Linked DNA regions of Homo sapiens. The protein of the gene in region 1 purifies or fractionates together with the protein of each later gene. This does not show direct contact. Each region holds a gene or a part of one and is shown on either strand. Other genes may lie near its edges.

What was found.
Region 2: the proteins of TSC22D3 (region 1) and SGK1 purify together in Homo sapiens (affinity purification with western blotting; 2 studies listed by BioGRID). This does not show direct contact.

Annotation. Positions count from the first base shown.
Region 1 is NC_000023.11:107,765,396-107,769,544, forward strand, and holds part of TSC22D3 (TSC22 domain family protein 3), read right to left. Parts: intron 1-4,149. UniProt on the Homo sapiens protein: Protects T-cells from IL2 deprivation-induced apoptosis through the inhibition of FOXO3A transcriptional activity that leads to the down-regulation of the pro-apoptotic factor BCL2L11.
Region 2 is NC_000006.12:134,202,766-134,206,914, forward strand, and holds part of SGK1 (serine/threonine-protein kinase Sgk1), read right to left. Parts: intron 3,750-4,149; exon of another isoform or gene 3,646-3,749; intron 1-3,645. UniProt on the Homo sapiens protein: Serine/threonine-protein kinase which is involved in the regulation of a wide variety of ion channels, membrane transporters, cellular enzymes, transcription factors, neuronal excitability, cell growth, proliferation, survival, migration and apoptosis.

The sequences.
Region 1 (4,149 bases):
CCACTCCTTCCTGCTATACCCTCAGCTCCTCAGAGCCCTGGTCCTAGACTCTGACGTCTCCTGTGTCCTCTACAGTGATTAGCAGGATAGGCATTCAATAAATCCTCAGTCGGTACTCAATACATAGCAGGCCCTTGGTCAATAAATGATGGATTGATTAATTGAAGTGCTTGGTCGCTTTGGTACAAGGCCGAATGAGGTGCTGCCATCATTCATTTCTCTGTGCACCTGGGCAGGCAGATTATGTTGCCTTAAAACTGAGCAGTTCTTTTTCTTATTATTTATTATTTCTTTGTTTTGTTTTCTTTGTTTCTTTTTCTTTTTTACTGCTACAGCCTATGAACCAAAAAGGCAGAGGGGATAGGGAGAAGAAAGGGGCTGGAAGCCTGGGAGGAGTCCCACAAAGGAAAATTCTGCATCTCCATCTCAGGTCCCCTAATTTTCACTGGATTCTGTGATCTGGGGGACTAAGGGTGCCAAGCTCTTCTGAGCCCTGAGATGGTAGTCTTGAGCTTGTCCAAGAACTTATGAGTCAGCTTTGGATACAAATCATGCCTGCTGGTAATTCCCACACCACCTTTTTGACTTTGTTTCCCTGTTTCTCCTCTATTTCTTGGAGTGGAGAGCAGTGTCCCCACCTACTCACAGCCTGTGAGCCATTTACTTGATGGCAACACACGTGAGACAGGCTGGGGAAAAGACAAAGGAAGAGAAGAAGAGGAGCTATTGGTTTAGTTACAAACCTTGAGCTAGTGGAATATTAGATTGATGGGGGTATTCTGTGCTGTAGATAGTCACATTTGTTATTAGAGAAATCTGTCATAGAATCTGGCAATACTGACTTCACTGGGGGCTCAGTTCCACTAAGCCGGTAATGTAATTTTCTGAATAGGCCAGGCAGAGAGCTAAGAATCACTGTGAATTCAGGTCAACCTGGGGACTTTGAGACTTCATGGAGCGTGGACTGGGAATTGGCTCTTGAAAGGCCTTCCTTTAAACAGCTCCTCCACCTTCCGGTAAACCCTTTCACCTGGTGTCAGTCAGCCTGGAGTTTCCGCCCCCCCCCCAACAACTCCCCCCACCCCAACCCACCCAGTAGTTTCTGAACCAACAAGCAGATACAAAAGGAAGAGGGACTTCTGCGACCTGTTCTGGGGCCTCTCCATGCACCACGCAGTTTCTTTAGCAGTGCATTATCAGGTGATAGTAGGTTCCTCCCTGCCACCTCCAAAATGCCTCAAGCCAAATTAAGTCCACTCCAGCTTGCCTGTCTGCTTACATTTACTGCTGAGTGTGGAGGCTGAGTGTGGGACCGGGTCAGGCTTTGCTGCCTGGCATTTGCCTCTGAGCAGACTGCTTGCCTGACACTGGGGAGAGTAGGCTTTTCCTTGGGAAGTATGATGAGCTTGACTTGGACCCCCAGCAGGCTTCCAAATGCCTGTCCCCAGGGAAGCCTACCACTGAGCAAGCAGAAGTGTGATGCCTCAGTAACCTGGCTGTTACATAAGATGTGCTAGTTATGAGTCAGGGCCCTCAGGCTGGCCTAGGCCCAGCCTAGTCTGGGAGTGAGGCTAAACGGCAGCGCTGAAGGAGGGGTGTCTTGGGAGTGGGGTAAGCCAGGAAGGAGCTGCTGGAGTCGCTTCCTTTCCTCTCACTTCTCACCCCCTTCTTCCTTAGGGATAGCTCTAGCCAATCACCAGCCTAGATAGCACGGAGCGGGAATCCTGGCCAGACCCCTAAGCTGTGAACAGCTGCTCTCCATCTCCCCTGAAGAGAAGATTAGAAGAAGTGGGTTGAATACTCAAGCCTATTCTGTGAGTAAAGTCTTCCTTCGAGGAAGGATGGGGAAGGTCCCTGTGTGCTCTGTCCATAGGCAGGGGCCCGATTTCTGGCTGGACCTATTTGAGGAAAGTGGCTCCCAGGAGAGGAAGGCCAATGGTGAGCCTGGATCATCAGTGATCCAGCCTGCTTCCAGCTCTTGTTTTCCCTCGGGCTAGTGTCTGCACAATGGGAAGCTTCCCATTCAGTCTTCTGTGCTGGCTGGGATCTTAATGCCTCTTATACAGTTTCCAGAAGGGCCACAGCTACTTTGGGGCAGGAATTTTCAGCTAGAAGGTACAAGTGAACTTGCCTTGCCTACTGATGAAATTCCCTCCTGCCTGGAATAGAATCGAGAAAAGCTTGCTTTCTGCTCTCACAGATCGCATCTTAGCCCCACTCCAACTCTAGTTAAGCTGGATTTCAGCATGGTAGACAGTGGCCTCCAAAAGACATTTTCCCTGACCTGACTCTTCATCAAACCTAGGTTGCCCTGAAACTGGGATCTAGCCTTCTGGCCTTCATGGGGCTCCTCCTAGCCCATGGGGTTCTGTGGAGGGCCTTTTCTGCCAAAGCTGTGGTGCTACAGCAATGCCCTAACCCTTGTCCCATTATTGCAGACTTTGGGACAGCACAGTATGTTCTGGGCCATTATTGTTCTCTTTATTTAAAAGGAAATTTCATCTTTCTGACCCCTGTGGTCATGGACTCCTCTCCCCTGAGTTCACTGAGCACACAAAATACCCCATCAAATGAACCCATGTTTTAGTCTCAACTTAGCACATTGGTTTCTCCAGGGTTCAAGAGGCTATTGCACGATACCAACCAATTTGTTATATAAGCCCAGCCAGCCATGGCAGATTATGGCTTTACAGTTATCTCTAGGGATGGCTTACATAAGAAGAAGAGAAAGTTCAGGTAGGAGCAGAATCACGATGAGCAAACAGCGCAACAGCCACCACCAGGTGCAGACATGGCCAAACTCATTCCTCCCAACCAACCCACCCACCAGGTGGGGGCAAGAACTCTGCAGGGTTCCATCACCCGGGATGCCTAGAGGTCTTGGCAGTCTTGGCCAGATACATCCATCTCCATTTTACCCAGACTCCCTGGCCTTCAGTACCTGATCTGGAAAGGAGCCAACCCTCTACCTGGAATGGAGAGCTTGTTGGATTATCTGCAAGTGCAAATATAAGCAGGAGTGTTAACCTTCTCTTCAGGCAGGGAAGAAAACTAAGGTCACCCTGGAAAGCATTATTTGCTGAGGTGTGGACTCAGTAAATAATAGTCCACTCCTGGCAAAAACTGAGGAGTAGATGAAATTCAAGCTCTGTGCTTCCCACCTTTCTTTAAGAGCATGAACTTTCCAAACAGATCTTTTGAACTCTCATGCTGTCCAGGCCCCGTGCTGTAACAGCCCAAGCTAGGCCTTCCATGGACTCCAGCCCCATCTCTCTACCTCTCTCCTCCAAAGTTGGCTTTGCCACATTCCAGTCCCATAGGACCCTATTCCCAGTGGGCTGTCACCATGACCAGAGGTCTGATAAACAAATCCATACAAAGTAGTTAATGGCAAGTAATGGTGTCACATGTTACTCTTTAAAAAGGTATGCTAGACCTTGGCCATTCATGAGAGATACACACTAAAACTTTTGCCAGTCTCCAACTCATGGATGCAATCTCCAAAGCATGTCATTTCCCCCATAAAAAGTCCATTCCCAGGCAGCACCATCACTTTGCCAAACTTTGTAGCTTTCTCTTCGTTGTAATCACTAGCACCAGCAGCTGGCTTAGAGAGGGAGCATTCTCCTCAAGGAATGCCCTGAGACATTTGCTCATTTTATGACAGGTTCCTACGTATGTGTTGACTACGAGCAGTAGACCACAAAATTGTGTTGAAAAGTAGGTGCTGGGCAATGCCACTCCTAGGTATATACCCCAAAGAATTAAAAGCAGGGACTTGAACAGATACTTGTACACCAGTGTTCATAGCAGCATTCTTCATAATAGCCAAAAGAGGGCAACAACCTAAGTGTCCACTGACAGATGAATGGATAAGCAAAAGAGGTATATCCATACAATGGAATTTTATTCAGCCATAAAAAGAATGAAGTACTGATATGTGCTACAACATGGATGAACTTTAAAACATGTTGAGTGAAAGAAATCAGACACAAAATATTGTATGATTCAATTTATATGAAATATCTAAATAGGCAAATCCATAGAGACAGAAAGTAGAATAGAGGTTACCAGGGGGTAGTGGGAGGGGAAAATAGGGAAACGGTGAGTTATTCTTTAATGGGTACAGAGTTTTTGTTTGGGATGATG
Region 2 (4,149 bases), on another chromosome or scaffold:
AAATATCTGGATAAAAACAAAAGATAATTTTCCCCTTATTTTTTAAAAAATGCACTGTACTGTAGGGTTTAGTACATATATAGATAATACATATGACAGCTATAATATAAAAGATGAGGGTAGAGTGGGGTAGATGCACCTACATTGTTTGCAAATTTTGACGATGGTCTATGAAAATTTAAAGTCATTTATTCTCAGCTGGGTACAGTGGCTCATGCCTGTAATGCCAGCTCTTTGGGAGGCCGAGGTGGGCAGATCACTTGAGGTCAAGAGATCGAGGCCAGCCTGGCCAACATACTGAAACCCCGTCTCTACTAAAAATACAAAAATTAGCCAGGCGTGGTGGCACGTGCCTGTAATCCCACTACCTGGGAGGCTGAGACAGGAGAATTACTTGAACCCAGAAGGTGGAGGTCACAGAGAGCCAAGATTGTGCCACTGCACCCCAGCCTGGGCAACAGAGTGAGACTCTGTCTCAAAAAAATAAAAATAAAAATAAAGTCATTTATTGTAATCTTCAGAGCACCACTGAAAATGTGATGCAAAGAGGATAACTAGAAAGTCAACAGGTAAATTAATATTAAATTCTAAAACCTATTCAAATAATCCTAGAGAAGTCAGGAAAGGAAGAATAAGCAAACAAAGAAGAGAAGGGACATATAGAAAACAAATAGCAAAACAGTAAAGTTAAATCTAACTGTGTCATTACATTAAGTATAAAGGGGCTAAACATCACAAGTAAAAAAAACAGAGATCATTAGATAGGATTTTAAGAGGAAAATCTAACCACATGATGTCTATAAGATAAGCACCTTAACTATAAGACACAGGTTGAAAGAAAATGGAAAGAAAAATATGCCATGTGAAAAGTAGGCTTTAGAAGATTGGACTGGCTGTATCTATCAGAAGAAATAGACTTAAAACAAAGACTTTTACCAGAGATAAAGAAGGAAATTTCCTAATGATAAAATGATCAGTTCATTAGGAAATAATAATAATCATAAAGATGTGTGTGTGGTTGGGCACGGTGGCTCATGCCTGTAATCCCAGCACTTTGGGAGGCTGAGGTGGGTGGATCACCTGAGGTCAGGAGTTAGAGACCAGCCTGAACAACGTGGCAAAACCCCGTCTCTACTAAAAATACAAGAATTAGCTGGGAGTGATGGCATGTGCCTGTAATCCCAGTTACTCAGGAGGCTGAGGCAGGAGAATTGCTTGAACCCAGGAGGCAGAGGTTGCAGTGAGCCGAGCCGAGATCATGCCATTGCACTCCAGCCTGGGCAACAAGAGCAAAACTCCACCTCAGAAAAAAAAAAAAAAGTATATGTGCCTAATAACAGAGGTTCAAAATACATAAAGCAAAAATTGACTGAATTAAAAGAACCAAAAGACAATTCTACCACTAGAGGTGGAGATTTTAAAACACTCTTAGTAATGGACTGACCAACTAGGCAAAAAATAAATAAATAAATAAATAAATAAATAAATAAATAAATAAATAATTACTCTAGACATAGATCCTACTTTATGAGTTGGTTAAGTTGGTGACTGGGAAGGATCTTCATGAGATGAGCTCTTGTAGGAGGGACACTCCATTCTTTGTAACACTACTGATGAAGGAAAAGTAATAAAAACGTTTTAAAAATGAGTATGTCTATTGCACCACTGCACTCCAGCCTGGGCGACAGAGCAAGACTCCATCTCAGGAAAAAAAAAAAAAAAAAAGAGTAAGTCTGAAATATTTCTATTCCTATTTCTCTATGTGTTCTGCATTAGTTTTTCTTGTAACTTTTTTTTTTTTTTTTGAGATGGAATTTCACTCTTTTTGCCCAGGCTGGAATGCAATGGCACAATCTTGGCTTACTGCAACCTCTGCTTCCTGGGTTCAAGTGATTCTCCCGCCTCAGTCTCCCAAGTAGCTGGGATTACAGGCACGTGCCACACCTCCCGGCTAATTTGTGTATTTTTAGTAGAGAAGGGGTTTCACCATGTTGGCCAGGCTGGTCTCTAACTCCTGACCTCAGGTGATCCACCCACCTTGGCCCCCCAAAGTGCTGGGATTGCAGGCATGAGCCACCACACCCAGCCCGTAACATAATTTATTTAGGCTTCAAAAATTGTCCAAGCAACATTTTCTTTTTCTTTCTTTCTTTTCTTTCTTCCTTCCTTCCTTCCCTCCCTCCCTCCTTTTCTTTCTTTCTTTCTTTTTCTTTCTTTCTTTCTTTCTCTGTTTCTCTCTTTCTCTCTTTCAGTGAAAGCAAGTTTATTAAGAAAGTAAAGGAATAAAGAATAGCTGCTTCACAGATAGAGCAGTCCTGAGGGCTGCTGGTCAAGCACCATTTTCTAGACCTGTCCTGTACAGATTTCCCTCCCTTTCCATTTTCTTTACATAACATCAAGAATCATTTATGTTCCTTTGGTAATGTTTCATTCTACATTGCTTCTTCATAACACATGTGCTGTAGATCTTACTAGCAGTATTAGCCAGCAGATGGCTTGTTTATTGTGGTGGTATACTGCTGATGGACTGAAATGATGGCATAAATAGGCTAATTCACTTTTATGTTTTTTCTTCTTTCTTCAAAAGATATAATAAAACAAGACAGAAAACAATTTTTTGACAGATGAAATTGATAATGTTTAGACCGTAAGTCTGGTCTTTGAAAAAAAAAAAAGCCATCAGAAAGTTTCTCACTTTCCTTCTCAAGTCCTCCTGTTTCTGCTAATAGGCACAGCCTCTGACTCCCTTTTATGAAGAACAGATTATAGCACAGATTTAGCCCAAGCTGTTTCTGCTAGGAGAGCTGCTTCTTCCTAAGAAGCGTGCTATAGAACTGGGCAGTCCACTCTCCATTCTCCTAGCCTTGGTATTTTCTGGCTGCGAGCTTTGGATATGTCAGCTAACCTATTCAGCTTATTATTTCATTTCTAATAGAGGCATAACAAGGAAAGGGCTGTCTCTCCTATTTCAAGGGATTGCGGCAAACACTACATTAGATTTCTGTGAATACTCCTTGTAAAAGCGTGAGGCATAATACAAATATCAGATATCAGCGTGAGTTTTCTATTTCATTAGACCTATTTCATTAGAAAAGGTGAAAGCTCTATTATCACTCTCTTAATTGTTTTAGCTCCTTTTTGCTTCACCTTCCCTTTTATTTCTAGTGTCTACTTTGTGCAATTAGGCCTCACGGCTCATGTGTGTTTGTGAAAAAGAATTTTTAAATGTCTTCTATTTGCTATGAGAACATACCCTACTCTTTGTCTAAGCGTAATTTCTAATCATATAACCTGAAGCATATTCTCCGATCTCATAAAGTGGCATTCTTCTGATTCTGATTAGATGTACAGCCCTAATATCATAGTGCAAGTATACATGCCCTCCCATAAGTATTCTGAAGTATGATTCACCCTAGGTTTTCAAATCTCTTCCTTGCCCTAGAAAACAAACTTGGACTCATGTGTTTGCCCACTTTATTCAACTCCTCTGTCTTCTACTCCAGCAAATAGACTCATTCCTCATTCCTCCCAACACTTAAATATGCTTCACAATCCACAAAGCTGTACCTGATGATATATATATATATATATATATATATATATATATATATATATATATTTTTTTTTTTTTTTTTTTTTTTTAAATGACAGGCAGGTAATGTGCAGACATCATAACAAGGCTTGAAGGAGGCATATCTCACACAGGAACATGAAAACCCAATCATCACACTTATAAACGACAAAGGGATCTAGTATATACGTTTTAGATACTGAAAAGAAGACATAACAAAAGGACTTTTAGGGTAAAATTGATTGCAAGGCTAGGTATGGTGGCTCACACCTGTAATCCTAGCACTTTGGGAAGCCGAGCTCAGCAGATTGCCTGAGGTCAGGAGTTCGAGACCAGCCTGGCTAACATGGTGAAACCCTGTCTCCATTAAAAATACAAAAATTATCCAGGCATGGTGGCTCATGCCTGTAGTCCCAGCTACTTGGGGGGCTGAAGCAGGAGAATCGCTTGAACCCTGGAGGTGGAGGTTGCAGTGAGCCGAGATCGTACCACCGCACTCCAGCCTGGGCGACAGAGCAAGACTCCGTCTCCAGAAAAAAAAAAAAAACAAAAAAAAAATTAATTGCAGTGTATTCGAG